Linked DNA regions of Homo sapiens. The protein of the gene in region 1 interacts with the protein of each later gene in a pairwise test. Each region holds a gene or a part of one and is shown in the gene's direction. Other genes may lie near its edges.

What was found. The genes of interacting proteins can lie anywhere in the genome.
Region 2: the proteins of USHBP1 (region 1) and STX11 interact in binary tests that used the Homo sapiens proteins (3 or more experiments, as listed by UniProt).
Region 3: the proteins of USHBP1 (region 1) and FAM107A interact in binary tests that used the Homo sapiens proteins (3 or more experiments, as listed by UniProt).
Region 4: the proteins of USHBP1 (region 1) and TRIM54 interact in binary tests that used the Homo sapiens proteins (3 or more experiments, as listed by UniProt).

Annotation. Positions count from the first base shown.
Region 1 is NC_000019.10:17,258,246-17,261,745, reverse strand, and holds part of USHBP1 (harmonin-binding protein USHBP1), read left to right. Parts: intron 1-1,723; coding exon 1,724-1,849; intron 1,850-2,013; coding exon 2,014-2,150; intron 2,151-2,316; coding exon 2,317-2,457; intron 2,458-3,044; coding exon of another isoform or gene 3,045-3,150; exon of another isoform or gene 3,151-3,162; intron 3,163-3,273; exon of another isoform or gene 3,274-3,360; coding exon 3,361-3,500.
Region 2 is NC_000006.12:144,181,517-144,185,016, forward strand, and holds part of STX11 (syntaxin-11), read left to right. Parts: intron 1-3,500. UniProt on the Homo sapiens protein: SNARE that acts to regulate protein transport between late endosomes and the trans-Golgi network.
Region 3 is NC_000003.12:58,567,392-58,570,891, reverse strand, and holds part of FAM107A (actin-associated protein FAM107A), read left to right. Parts: exon of another isoform or gene 1-566; intron 567-1,026; coding exon of another isoform or gene 1,027-1,031; coding exon 1,032-1,201; intron 1,202-3,500. UniProt on the Homo sapiens protein: Stress-inducible actin-binding protein that plays a role in synaptic and cognitive functions by modulating actin filamentous (F-actin) dynamics. Mediates polymerization of globular actin to F-actin. Also binds to, stabilizes and bundles F-actin.
Region 4 is NC_000002.12:27,285,429-27,288,928, forward strand, and holds part of TRIM54 (tripartite motif-containing protein 54), read left to right. Parts: intron 1-3,500. UniProt on the Homo sapiens protein: May bind and stabilize microtubules during myotubes formation.

The DNA of each region.
Region 1 (3,500 bases):
GAATCGCCTGATCCCAGGAGGTGGAGGTTGCAGTGAGCCGAGATTTCACCACTGCACTCCAGCCTGGGTGACGGAGTGAGACTCTGTCTCAAAAAAAAAAAAAAATAATAATAATGCTGGGCACGGTGGCTCACGCCTGTAATCCCAGCACTTTGGGAGGCCGAGGCACAGATCACGAGGTCAGGAGATCGAGACCATCCTGGCTAACACGGTGAAAACCCGTCTCTACTAAAAATACAAAAAATTAGCCGGCGTGGTGGCGGGTGCCTGTAGTCCCAGCTACTCCGGAGGCTGAGGCAGGAGAATGGCGTGAACCCGGGAGGCGGAGCTTGCAGTGAGCCGAGATCCCGCCATTGCACTCCAGCCTGGGCGACAGAAGAAAACTCTTTCTCAAAAAAAAAAAAAAAAGAAAGAAAGAAAGAAAGAAAAAGAAAGAAAACTGAGGGTGGTGGGAGTAGGCCCTGGAGTGGCAGCATGACTGGCCTGTTCAAGAAACCCGAAGGAGGCCAGTGTGGCTGGAACACAGGGGGCAACAGGGAGAGTGTGGGGAGCCAGAACAGAACAGAGGGAGAACAAATGCAGATCGCGTAGGGCCTCGTGGGCTGCAAGGAGACGCTTGGGCTTTGCTTGGATTAAGGTGAGAGCCCTGGAGGGTTTTGAGCAGAGGAGGGGCATGCTCGACGCAGGTGTTCACAGGCGCCCTCTGGTGGCGGAGGTGAGGGTGGACTCCTGGAGAGCCAGGAGGCGACTTCATTGGTCCAGACATGCACGATGGTGGAGGTTGTAGAAGTGGAGAGATGCGGACGGATTCTGGGTGATGTGGCAGATGGAACTGACGTGTGAGCGTGAAGGCTAGAGAGAAGTCAAGGACAACTTCAGGCTTTGGGACCTGCTGGACTAGAAGGGAGAGATGGAGGAGCTACAGGGTAGGCAGGTTTGGCTGGGGGTGACCAGATCTCTTTAGCCCTTGATAAGCTCAAGTGTCCATGAGACATCCACGTGGGGTCCTCAAGGGAGCAGCTATATGTCTGAGTCCAGGGCTCAGAGGAGACAGCAGGGCAGAAGGGAGAAACTTGAGCATCCTTAGCACACAGGTGGCATTTAAAGCCATGTGGCTGCTGGGTGCATTGTCTCATGCCTGTAATCCCAGCACTTTGGGAGGCTGAGTCAGGAAGATCACTTGAGGTCAGGAGTTCAAGACCAGCCTGGTCAACATGGTGAAACCCCATCTCTACTGAAAATACAAATATTTGTCAGGCATGGTGGCAGATGCCTGTAATCCCAGCTACTCGGGAGGCTGAAGCAGGAGAATCACTTGAATCCGGGAGGCAGAGGTTGCAGTGAGCTGAGACTGTGCCACTGCACTCCAGCCTAGGTAACAGAGCAAGACTCCATCTCAAAAATAAAAATAAAAAAGCCATGTGGCTGAATGAGATATTGAGAGGGAAGCCCTCATCTTAGGCTGGTAGAAAAACTTTGGAGCCCAGTCCAGGGATTCATTTTTCCCCAGAGTGGGGCCCATTTTTCTGCTGGGAAAAATAAAATCCTCAGCAGCTGAGAAACATTCCCAAGGTCAGATAGTGAGATTTTTGGCAGGCTAAGTATCCAAGCCTCTTGCCTTCCAGCTAGGGTTCTTGCCACTTCCCCAAGAACAGGCCTTGGGGAGAGAGGGCTGGTGGTTGGTTTGAGCCCCTAGGCCTGACGTCCCCCTCATCTTTCCCAGGTTCAAGAGCTGCAGGATTCCCTCTTGAGGCTGGAGCCCTGCCCACATCTTTCCCACAACCAAGCAGGTGGCTCAGGCAGTGGTTCTAGCAGCTCTGAGGCAGACAGGGAACCCTGGGAGACTCAGGTGAGTGCGAGAAGTTCAATCCCATGGTCTTGATGTCCTTAGCCTTCAGGGGAATGAGACTCAAATCTTTGTCATGGGATCCAACAGCTTTGGGGTTGCAAAATGCCTACAATCCCAGGCTCTTGGTGACAATTGGGGTCAGTTATATCACTTCTTCTTGGCAGGACTCCTTCTCCCTGGCTCACCCCCTGCTTCGGCGCCTCCGCAGCCATTCCAGCACCCAGATCCTTGGGTCTCTTCCCAACCAGCCCCTCAGTCCTGAGATGCACATCATGGAAGCCCAGATGGAGCAACTCCGGGGGTAAGAGACTCAAATGCTGAGCTCATAAGGGCACAGGCACCTCCTCCAACTGAGTTATAAAGCCAGGAGTCTGAAGCTGCAACAGGAGGGAGGGAAAGGGTGGAAATTGAGGCCTGACTGCCTTAGAAGGCCTCTGACTTTCCCTCTTCCCCACCTTCGGGAACAGGAGCATTGAGAAGCTCAAATGCTTTAATCGTCTGCTATCAGCTGTGCTACAGGGATACAAGGGCCGCTGTGAAGGCCTCAGCATGCAGCTAGGCCAGCGGGAGGCTGAGGCCACAGCATTGCATCTGGCCTTGCAGTACAGGTCAGTGCACCCTGCCAGTGATGTCACCAGCTGGGGAGGGAGTGGGCTTTCTGAGGATGGCCCCAATCCACAGAACCCTCACTGGAGAGCACCTTCCCCACTTCAGAAATTAATTTTTTTTTTTGAGACAGAATCTCGCTGTGTTGCCCAGGCTGGAGTGCAGTGGTGAGATCTCAGCTCACTGCAACCTCTGCCTCCTGGGTTCAAATGATACTCATGTCTCAGCCTCCTGAGTAGCTGGGATTACAGGTGTATGCCACCATAGCCAGCTAATTTTTGTATTTTTAGTAGAGATGGGTTTCACCATGTTGGCCAGGCTAGTCTCGAACTCCTGACCTCATGATCCCCCCTACTGGGCCTCCTAAAGTGCTGGGATTACAGGTGTGAGCCACCTTGCCTGGCCCAGAAATTAACTTAAGGCAATTTTAGTTCAGGGTTGCTAAGGGAGTCTGCATGCTTCCAGAGCTGAGGGCAGTGGGGAGAAGAGGGGTTCAGGAGCAAGTGGGGACTGGCACCTATAGAGCAAGATGTAGCTAAGTGGATTTTTTTTTCTTTTTTCTTTCTTTTTTTTTTTTTTTTTGAGACAGAGTCTTGCTCTGTCACCCAGGCTGGAGTGCAGTGGTGCCATCTTGGCTCACTGCAACCTCCGCCTCCCCAGTTCAAGTGATTCTCCTGCCTCAGCCTCCTGAGTAGCTGGAACTACAGGTGCGTACCACCACACCTTGCTAATCTTTGTCTTTTTAGTAGAGACGGGGTTTCACCATGTTGGTCAGGCTGGTCTCGAACTCCTGACCTCAGGTAATCCTCCCGCCTCAGCCTCCCAAAGTGCTGGGACTACAGGTGAGGGCCATTGCACCCAGCCGAGCTGAGTGTCCTGAAGCACTCAGAACCAGTGTCCCACAGTGAACACTGTGAAGAGGCATACAGGGTTCTGCTTGCTCTGCGGGAGGCCGACTCAGGAGCAGGAGACGAAGCCCCCATGAGTGACCTGCAAGCAGCTGAAAAGGAAGCATGGAGGCTGCTGGCACAAGAGGAGGCTGCCA
Region 2 (3,500 bases), on another chromosome or scaffold:
CCCGGGAGGCAGAGGTTACAGTGAGCCGAGATAGTACCACTGCACTCCAGCCTGGGCAACAGAGCAAGACCACCTCAAAAAAAAAAAAAAAAAAAAAAAAAGCTGACATGGTAGGTATCTATGGAATGGGTCACAAATTTGAGTATGCATTATAATCACCTGGAGATCATCCTAGGCCTACCGAATCAGAAACTCTAGGTGCCCAGGCATCTGTAATCTTTGAAGCTCTCCAGAAGATTCTGTCACCTCTTGCAGACCGAGGACCACTGAGCTACCATCATCTCTTTGTTCCTTTGTTTTCTCTTACACAAAACTTTATTGCTCAATGAAAAAAGGCTTAAGCAATACCCCCTTCCTTCCTTATTGGATCTGGTTTTCAGTACAGATTATATGCATGCCTGAAAAGAAAATTAGAAAGCAGAAGCAGATTTTTGGTAGTTGGTTGTCAATTTTCTTTTGAATTCTTCACCTCCATGCAAATTGAAGCAGGACTTATTTTTAGCAACTTGATGAATGCAATTTACCAAAGTTTATTACATTATCTTTTATTACAATAAGACAGGAAGGTCAGTGGAATTGTCTGATTTTTCTTTCTCATTTACCATAGTTCTCTTTCTAGGAACTCATAGTACAGAATCAAGCTATGGGATATATAGGTTATTTTGATTCTCTATTTGTGCCCACTTCTATATTTTTGTATAACTTCAGTAGTGTATACACTTTTAACCTTTTTGGAGACATTCTTAGGAATAGCAGTCTCTTCGTTGACTTTCTGTTGTAGTTTTCCTAATGTTTGCTCCCTGGTGACCAGGAGACCTTCTATGTCAGTGGAGACAACTCATCCAAGGCTGGCTGAGCCAAGAGAGGTGGGCAGGAAGGCCAGGTGAAGGCCCCCTTCCCTCCTTTACCACACCTCAATAGAGAATCTTTATGTCTCCTGTACCCTTTCTTTTTCTCTTATTAGCACATTATGGACTTGCGCCTTCACATGAGCTTGGGCCCTTACCTGATTTATAATTTGCTATCTATGACTTTATGGTTGTTCAATCTTGAGAAGGAATGACTGTCCCTGGACATCTTCCAAAACCATTTTCTATATGATTGAATTGTACTTGACTCTTCTTATTGTGATGAGATGATTTCCCCCAATAGCTTTTTAATGGCTGTAGGAGAGCAATACAGAGCACAGGACCTGTCTAGGATAAGCAGGATACATACAAATGATCCCTAGTGTCCCAGGGCGTGGTACAGTCCCTTATCTACCCATTTCCTTCCATTGAAGTGCCTTGTAAGGCTTGGCCAACATGTAAGGAAGGAAGGCATCTCTCACCTATTCTTGCCTTGTTCATCAAAATGCATCCATTCCATCTCATCCACTTGTTGCATGGTAGACTATATTGGGTACTAACTTAAGCAGATGGGTACAGCTCAACTCTACGCAAACTAGCTAATGTGCTTTCCCCAGGTAGCATAAAATGTTAACTTGATTGCCATGCATAGACTTTTAAAAGTTGCTAAGGAGTTAGTCCTTTAAACGAATAGTATTTATTGTTTTATGGGGGTTTTTAAATTATGAAATGTGTGTGGACATTATAAAAATTTTGGAAAATACAGAAAAGCAAAAGGAAGCAATTTAAACCATGTATAATTCCACAACTCAAAGAAAACTATAATTAACACTTTGATGTGTATTACTCAAGTTTCTGTTTCAGAATGCTGCACATTCTCTTTCTCCATAACTACTTTTTATGCCTAACAGAGTATATATGCTTTTCATGCCATTAGATAGCCTTCTAAACTCTGTGACTTATGTAGAAGCCAGGACCTCATTATTGTGCATTTAACTTATTTCTGAATTTCTGCAAAAACAAGGTGGTGATGAAAATATTTTGAGCAATGAGTTTCATACACTTTTGCATTATATCTTTAGAATAAATGCACATATGTCAAAACAAATGCACACTTGAAAAGCTTTTGATACATATTACTAAACTGACTTCCAGAAAGATTCTATCAATTACCAATTTTTTAAAATAATGAATAGACTTTGTTTGCAAAATCATTAAGTTGCAAAAACAAAGACACCACAGGAGTTTTAAATTAGACTTTTTTTTAATCTAGAAAAAAAATTTAATGTACTTGCTTAGTTCAGCAGAAGCTGAGAGAGGTCTCAAGACCCTGAACAATAATACTGATTTTATTATTTTATCTTATTTTATGTTTTTAAGTTCCGGGGTACACGTGCAAGATGCGCAGGTTTGTTACAGAGGTAAACATGTGCCATGGTGGTTTGCTGCACAGATCATCCCATCACCTAGGTTTTAAGCTCAGCATGCATCAGCTCTTTTCCCTAATGCTCTCCCCTCCCCCGCACTTCCCCGACAGGCCCCACTGTGCATTATTCCCCTCCCTGTGTCCAGGTGTTCTCATTGTTCACCTCCCACTTATAAGTGAGAACATGCAGTGTTTGGTTTTCTGTTCCTGCATTAGTTTGCTGAGGATAATGGCTTCCAGCTTCATCCATGTCCCTGCAAAGAACATGATCTCATTCCTCTTTATGGCTGTATAGTACAGTCTAACATTGATGGGCATTTGGGTTGGTTCCGTGTCTTTGCTATTGTGAATAGGGCTGCAGTGAACATTGACATGCATGTGTCTTTATAATAGAATGATTTATATTCCTTTGGGTATATACCCAGTAATGGGATCGCTGGCTCAAATGGTGTTTCCAGTTCTAAATCTTTGAGGAATTGCCACACTGTCTTCCACAATGGTTGAACTAATTCACATTCCCACCAACAGTGTAAAAGCATTCCTATTTCTTCACAACCACCATCAGCATCTGTTGTTTCTTGACATTTTAATAGTCACCATTCTGACTGGCATGAGATGGAATTACCAGTATGTTTTGAGAGTTCCCAGAATCCTTACCCATTTGAAAAAGTATTGTTTTTAAAAAATTCCTGCTAACTTTATGGGCAAGAAAATTCTCAGCAGTTTAATTTGCATTTCCTTGTTTAATACAGAAGTCTTTTGTGACTATATTTTTATACTTTTGCTAAAGATTATTTAGTGCATTGGTTAAGTGGTGCTATTCTAACGCCTGAGTGTTCACTTACTGATGACCTTGAGTAAATTCCTTGATCTCCCTATGCTCACACCAACTCTGATAATGGCAGTACCTACTCATAGAATCTGTATGAAGACTAAAGAGGGTATCACATGAAAGATGCCTAGAAAATATCAGGCATATATAACATACGTTTATGTTCTCTGTCATTTACATCTTCTCTGAATTGCTTCACTGTCTTTGGGTAAGTAGATTTTTTGGTAGCTTAGAAATATATATATTAAGTATCTTAACCTCTTGTCTGTCATATATTATAATTTCTCCCCAGTTGGTGGTTTGTCTTTCAATTTTGTTCAAAGTGAGGAAACAGTTGAATATCAAGAAATTCAGACCAGGTGAAGGCATAGTTTTGGTCCAGGGTGGATCTTTT
Region 3 (3,500 bases), on another chromosome or scaffold:
TCCCCAAGACCAAAGAAAACTTCAAAAGTTGCATTGGCAATTACCAACAAATGTGTATTGATCGCCTACTGCATACCAGACCAGACACTGCCAACTGTCAGGGCCTGGCATATAATAGGAGCTCAACCTCTGCAAAGCTAGACTCATGAAGAGAGCAGAGCTAAAGTCTAAATTTTCACTGAAATTCCTATAAGCAGCTAATGGCCAGGCAGTGTCTATACCTTTGAGGCCTTTTTTTTTTTAAGTCAGTCTCTTTCTCTCTCTCTCTCTCTCTCTCTCTCTCTCTCTCTCTCTCTCTCTCTCTCTCTGCTGTATTTGCTTTTGGGCATTTCAAGGATAAGGAGCCAGTTTGTAGAAGAGGGAGCCCTTGTGTCTGAATTTTAAGTAAACTGACAGATTTCAAACCGCTGTGGTAGAAGTGGGGCCATTGAGTAGCCAAACATTTGACAACTATCCCTTTGCTATTAGGGACACAGCAGTCTCTGAATTTCATGCTCTCCTCTTTGATGTGAAGAAAATGAAAAGCTGAACAGTTGTGGAACTGTGGATAGAGTTAGACAATAAGGGTAATACTTTCTTTTTATCACTGCATTTATCCAAATTGTTTTTAACAAGTACATGTTACTCTTTTTAAATATATTTTCCTTTTCTGTTACAAGCTCATTGAAAAACAGAAACTCAAACATAATTCCTTTTATAGTGGGCGAAAACTGTTGCAAAGCCAGGCCAAAAATATGCATGTGTCAACCCGTATTTTGTGACCCGTTATCATTTTACTTCTATACTCCAGACACATCGCAAACATCATCTCCAATTCTGACAGCCCTGTGCATGCGTTCCGTTATGATTTCCATTTTATAAGTGAAGAAACTAAGGCTCAGAAAGTCAGGTAGCTTGCCCAGGTATGCGCAGTAGCAGGTGGCCAAGGTCCATCTGACATGAAAACCTTGCCCTTCAACTGTGTCCCATGGGGCAGGGTGAGATTATAGGCTCAGCTCTGAGCTACTCCTCTGCCCATCTCTACAGCCGCCATGTACTCGGAGATCCAGAGGGAGCGGGCAGACATTGGGGGCCTGATGGCCCGGCCAGAATACAGAGAGTGGAATCCGGAGCTCATCAAGCCCAAGAAGCTGCTGAACCCCGTGAAGGCCTCTCGGAGTCACCAGGAGCTCCACCGGGAGCTGCTCATGAACCACAGAAGGTAGGGATGAAGCCCTGCTGCCTGGGCCCCGCAAGCACCTGGGCCTGTGGGGGATGGGGAAGGTGACCCTGGAGGAAAGCAGAGCTGGCTTTCATCCTGGGGCTCCTGGAGACTGAGGAAGGCTGAGGTGCCCCACATGATCACCGGCAAAACCTGTAAAGACCCTGTCCCCAGTGGGTCCCTGGGAACCAGAGGGACCAAAAAGCCCTGTTCTCTTGCCCAGCCACCCATTTCATGCCCACACTCCAGATACATTTACTGAGTACCTACTATGTGCTGGGCACTGAGCCCAGACCTGGGGATACAAGAATGAATGGGACCCAGTTCCTGTCCTCACAGACAGGGACGGGTGCATAGCCAGGCAGTAGGATGGGTGCATTGATGAGGGCATAAATAGGCCTGAGACCCCAGAGGAGGAACCCGAGAGGGGTCTAAAATGACTTCACAGGAGCGGTGCTGCCTCAGCTATGACCTGAAGGGGGACTGGAGTTAGCCAGGCCGGAGGTGGGTGCTGGATGGCAGAGGGAACCTCATATGTAAATGAACAGGAAACAGGAGTCACTCACTGTGCCTGGGGCATCGATTGCGTGGTGCAGGCCAGGGCAGAAGGATGGACTAAGGAAAGGTCTACAGCAGGGGCACAAGGTGTGGTGGGCCCGTCTGGTGAGGTGGGATGGGGGAGCTCACAATACCAAAGTGGGCAGGAATGTTACAGAGGCCCAGGATGGTGGCTGGCTTTTCCGTGGAAGGCCGTGGTGTGCAATGACAGAGACGAGCCAGAGGGGCATCTGGGAGGTGGCAGGGGTGGGATGGGGCAATTGATGGGATGTGAATTGGAGAAGAGGAAGGCTGAGCCTCCCCTTGGAGGACTGGGAAATACTCCTGCTAACCAGTAACAGCGTGAACGCAGCGGTGCCTTCAGAGCGCCCTCTGCTGGCCGATTCTGGTATTAGAGCCGGTTGTGATTTCTATTCTTGTTTTCAGTTGTGTGACCAATATCCTAACAGTTATCATTTTGTACACTGAGTCGCTTTTGTTTTTGTTTTCAATTAGTATTATAATATGAGCATTTTCTCTGAATGGTTTTTAGACTCGTCCCTTTAATATCAAAAAACATCACCACAATCAAAAACAAAAGCTTAAAGACAAATCAGAGAAAGTATTTGTAATATAAATAAATTTTATTTTTAAAACTCACATATACAAAAAAAAATTCAGATCTCTTGTTTTTTTTCTTTTTTTCTTTTTTTTTGTTTGAGATGAAGTCTCGCTCTGTCGCCCAGGCTGGAGTGCAGTGGCGCGACCTCAGCTCACTGCAAGCTCCACCTCCCAGGTTCATGCCATTCTCCTGCCTCAGCCTCCCAAGTAGCAGGGACTACAGGTGCCCGCCACCACACTCGGCTAATTCTTTTGTATTTCTAGTAGAGACAGGGTTTCACTGTGTTAGCCAGGATGGTCTCGGTCTCCTGACCTCGTGATCCGCCCTCCTCGGCCTCCCAAAGTGCTGGGATTACAGGCGTGAGCCACTGTGCCTGGCCCAGATCTCTTACAATGGACAAGGAAAAAATGAATAAAAAGTAATACAGTACAGCCAGACATGGTGGCTCACACCTGTAATCCCAACACTTTGGGAGGCCGAGGCAGGAGGATCACTTGATCCCAGGAGTTCAAGGCTGCAGTGAGCTATGATTGCACCACTGCACTCCAGCCTGGGCAACAGAGCAAGTCCTTGTCTGTAAAAATAATATTGATAATACAGTTAATTCACAAAAGAAGAAATGCAAATGGCTGGTAAACATATCAAATGTTGTTCCATGTGACTAATAAAGAAACAAATGAAAAGCAGATATTCTTTCTGGCCTACCAGATTCTCAAATATGAAAAGATTGGCTGGTGATGGTGGGGAGAAATAGATGCTCTTGTACACTGTTCAGAGGAGGATACACTGGATAACCTTTCTCAGGCACAGATAGATATATGTACCTCAAATCTTTTTAAAGAGCCTGACCCAGCAATTCTACCTTTAGGAAAGTATCCTAAGAAAATAACCAGAAATAACATAAAACTTGGTCTCTGCAGTCAAACAGGCCTGGGTTCAAATCCTCATGTGGCCTACCTGTAGCTATGTCTTGGACTGGTATCTTCAGCCCTAGGAGCCTCAGTTTCTGTCCCTGTAAAATGGGACAGTAATGGGTCCACCTCCAAGGCTACAGGGAGGATTGCACAAGATAATAATGGGGGTTGGTGTCACCGCAGGAAGCAGCCCTGAGGCTGGGGGAAGCGGGAAGGTGATGGTCTC
Region 4 (3,500 bases), on another chromosome or scaffold:
TCAAAGTGATACCAGTATATCACTTAGAATTTGTAACATGTAAACATACTGTTTTCAAGCAGTATAGGAGTTCATATCATGAAAAGCAAATCTGCTATTCACCTCAGACCCTCAGTTGTCTCACCAGATAGAAGTAACTATTACCAACTTTCTTGGGAATACTTCCAGAAAATTTCCACAAATCGGCACATTTGCATGTATATGTGTTCTCAGGCGAGACCCATCGCCCCCCACCTGCCTTTGTTCACTTACTCGCTGTGGGTGATTGTTCCATATCCACCATTCAGATTTATGTCTTCGTTTTTAAATAGCTGTGTAGTTTTCATTGTTATGACTGGACCACAGTCTATTTAAATAATCTGTCCTCTAAAACATTTAGATGGTTTTCTGTGTTTTGTTGTCCTAAAAACTGCCGTGATGGACAACAAACAAGAGTTTTTGGGAATTGTGATTTTATAAGACCAAGTTAACTAGACAGCCAGGAAGCAAAATTTGAAAACAATTTATTTAAAAATACTGGCTACGTAAGGTGGCTCATGCCTGTAATCCCAACACTTTGGGAGGCTGAGACAGGAGGATCACTTGAGCCCAGGAATTTAAGACCAGCCTGGGCAACATAGTGAGACCTCATCTCTACAAAAAAGAAAATACTGTTAGTTGAACAGTATTAAGGGGTTGGGAGGAAATCATCCATAATCTTACCTCCCCAACACAGTTATTTTTATTTTTGCATATTATTTTTTTTTTTTTGAGATGGTGTCACATTATGTTACCCAGACTGATCTTGAACTCCTGGGCTCAAGTTATCTTCCTGCCTCAGCCTCTGGAGTGCACACCACCAAGCCCAGCAATTTTTGCATATTACATTCAAGCCCATGTCCGCAAACATTTTTACATAGTGGCCATCTTAATGTAATTCTTTTTAGAGCTGTAACAACTCTTTCTCTCTGAATTGAAACAGAATGAAACACCAAGACACCACATTAACCCCCTCTAATTTCTTCCTCCTTCTTTCCCCACACTTGCACCCACTCAGCTACCAAGAACTTCCACTAAAGGAAAGCTGTTGGTGTGGGAATTTGACACAAACATCTTCCCATGTGTTTCTGTATTTGTAAATTCTATTCACTCCTAAACGGCTTTAAAGCAAGCCTTCAGTTTATTTTTATACCTGCCTCCACTTCACTGTGGGCACTTGTTTTTGAGCCTGCAACCTGTTGTAATTTAACAGACAACCAAAAGGCCTTGTAAGAAGGTTGTTCTGGAACAGCTTTTCTGGAGGAGGTCTGTCTACAGAGGGACTTGCAGAGGGGGGATTGTCAAGAAAGAAGCCTCCTTCTCTAACAAGGGGCAGTCTGAGAGAGATGACTTTTGTTTCGCGCCACCCAAATTCCATTTCTTTATCCTTTAGTTGTTAGGACCAGGTGTCATCAGGTACAGGCCTGCCAGAGAAGATCCTACCCAGCCTGCCTCCTCAACCACTTCTACCCATTCTGAAGGCACCAGGATTTCTTCAGTCCAACTTTGGGCAGGTCTCCCTGATGCAAAATTGGTTCACTAAAATTTTGTGAATTGCATTAAATTTGTAGCAGGGTTAGGGCTCTTACTTCTGTAGGGAAGATCTTGATTTAGTGAGAACGAAAACCTAGACTAAGGCTTAGCACTCCTGGATTCTCCTCTGACGGGTTTCTTTGTTAATTTGCCACACAATGCATATCAGGCTATTTCACCACTTCAAGCCTGTTTACATAACTATAAATGAAAAGGGTGTTTTCTTTCTTTCTTTATTTTTGAGACAGGGTCTCATTCTATCACCCAGGTTAAGTGCAGTGGCATGATGATGGCTCACTGCAGCCTCGACTTCCCAGCCTCTAGCCATCCCTCCTACCTCAGCCCCCTGAGTAGCTGGGACCACAGGTGTGCACCACTATGCCTGGCTAATTTTTTTGTAATTTTTTGTAGAGACAAGGGTCTCTCTATGTTGCCCAGGTTGTTCTCCAACTCCTGGACTCAAAGGATCCTCCCACCTCAGCCTCCCAAAATGCCAGGATTACAGGCATGAGCCACTGTTCCTGACCGAAAAGGGTGTTTTAAACTGATTTTTTTTTTCCCAGAGACAGGGTCTCACTCTGTCACCCAGGCTGGAGTGCAGTGGCACGATCATAGTCCACTGTAACCTTGAACTCCTGGGCTCAAACAGTCCTTCTGCCTCAGCCTTTCGTGTAGCTAGGATTACAGGCATGTACCACCACACTCAGCTAATTAAAAAAAAAATGTTTTTGTACAGACAAAGTCTTACTATGTTGCCCAAGCTGGTCTCAAACTCCTGGCCTCAAGCGATCCTCTCAGTTCAGCCTCCAAAAGCTCTGGGGTTATAGGCGTGAGCCACTGCACCTGGCCTTAAACTGACCTTTAACATCTCTTGCAATTCTAACGATTTGGTTTCACAAAGTCGAAAAATATTTTTGTGGATTTCCATTTTTTGAGGGCTTTCCATTCTGTGACCAGTGTCCTAATTTGGCCCACTCTTCTGCTTATCACTCCTCCTTTCAAGCAGTAGGGCTTGGTTTACCAGCCCCTTGGGCCAAGCTCTTCCCTAGGTTCTACCGCCCATAGCTAGCCCTCTGTTTACAGTCCCTCTTATACCTGCAGCTCAGCTTTTACCAAAACCTGGATTCTTCTCAGGCGCTTCAGCTTTTCTCCAAATGTCTGGTCTTCTGCCCACCGTTTTCCCAAGGTTTTTCCAGCATATTCTGAGTGTCTGGCTCACAGAACTTGGATGGTCCATCATTCATCACTGGCCAGGCCTTCAGGTTGAGGGAAATAGCCTCCAAAAAGCCCCATTGCATCCAGAGCCTGTGTCCCAAATTAGCACCTCTCTGGATAGCCAGGGAAGAGGGAAAACATTCTGACATAAGTATGGATTTGCTAGACTAGCTGCATTTACAGAGCATCTTTCTAGATGGAACATTTCTATTAGATGCTATGGAACATTACAAAGGAAATAGAAGGCACCGTAAAGCCTAAAAGAGAGAGAGCTCATGGCATATATTCCACACAACAGCCTTGAACATAGCCTAGAATTAAATTCCATTTATTTGTTCCATTCCATCTTATCCTTCACAGTGGAGAAAGAACAGTCATTTCGTACCCTGTGGTTCTGTGTGGTCATTTCTTTTTAAGGTCTAGATTAGGATTGTTAACAGTCCTCTGTGTTTGTGCAGTGCCTTATAATTTATAGAATACATTCACAAACATGATTCCATTTGAGTTAGATCGAATGGATGTTATCTCCGTTTTACAGAAGAGAACATAGGAAACAGGTCACAGTCACACAAACAAAGGGACAGACTAAGGACATAAATCTAGGTGTTCTGTTATGTTTCCTAGAGTGATGGAATTTCCTCTACACATCACATCATTGGCACGTGAAATTTTACTTTATGGGGCTGGCTTCCTTGCATAAATGTAAGATTTAAGGAAAGAACAGGACATTTATG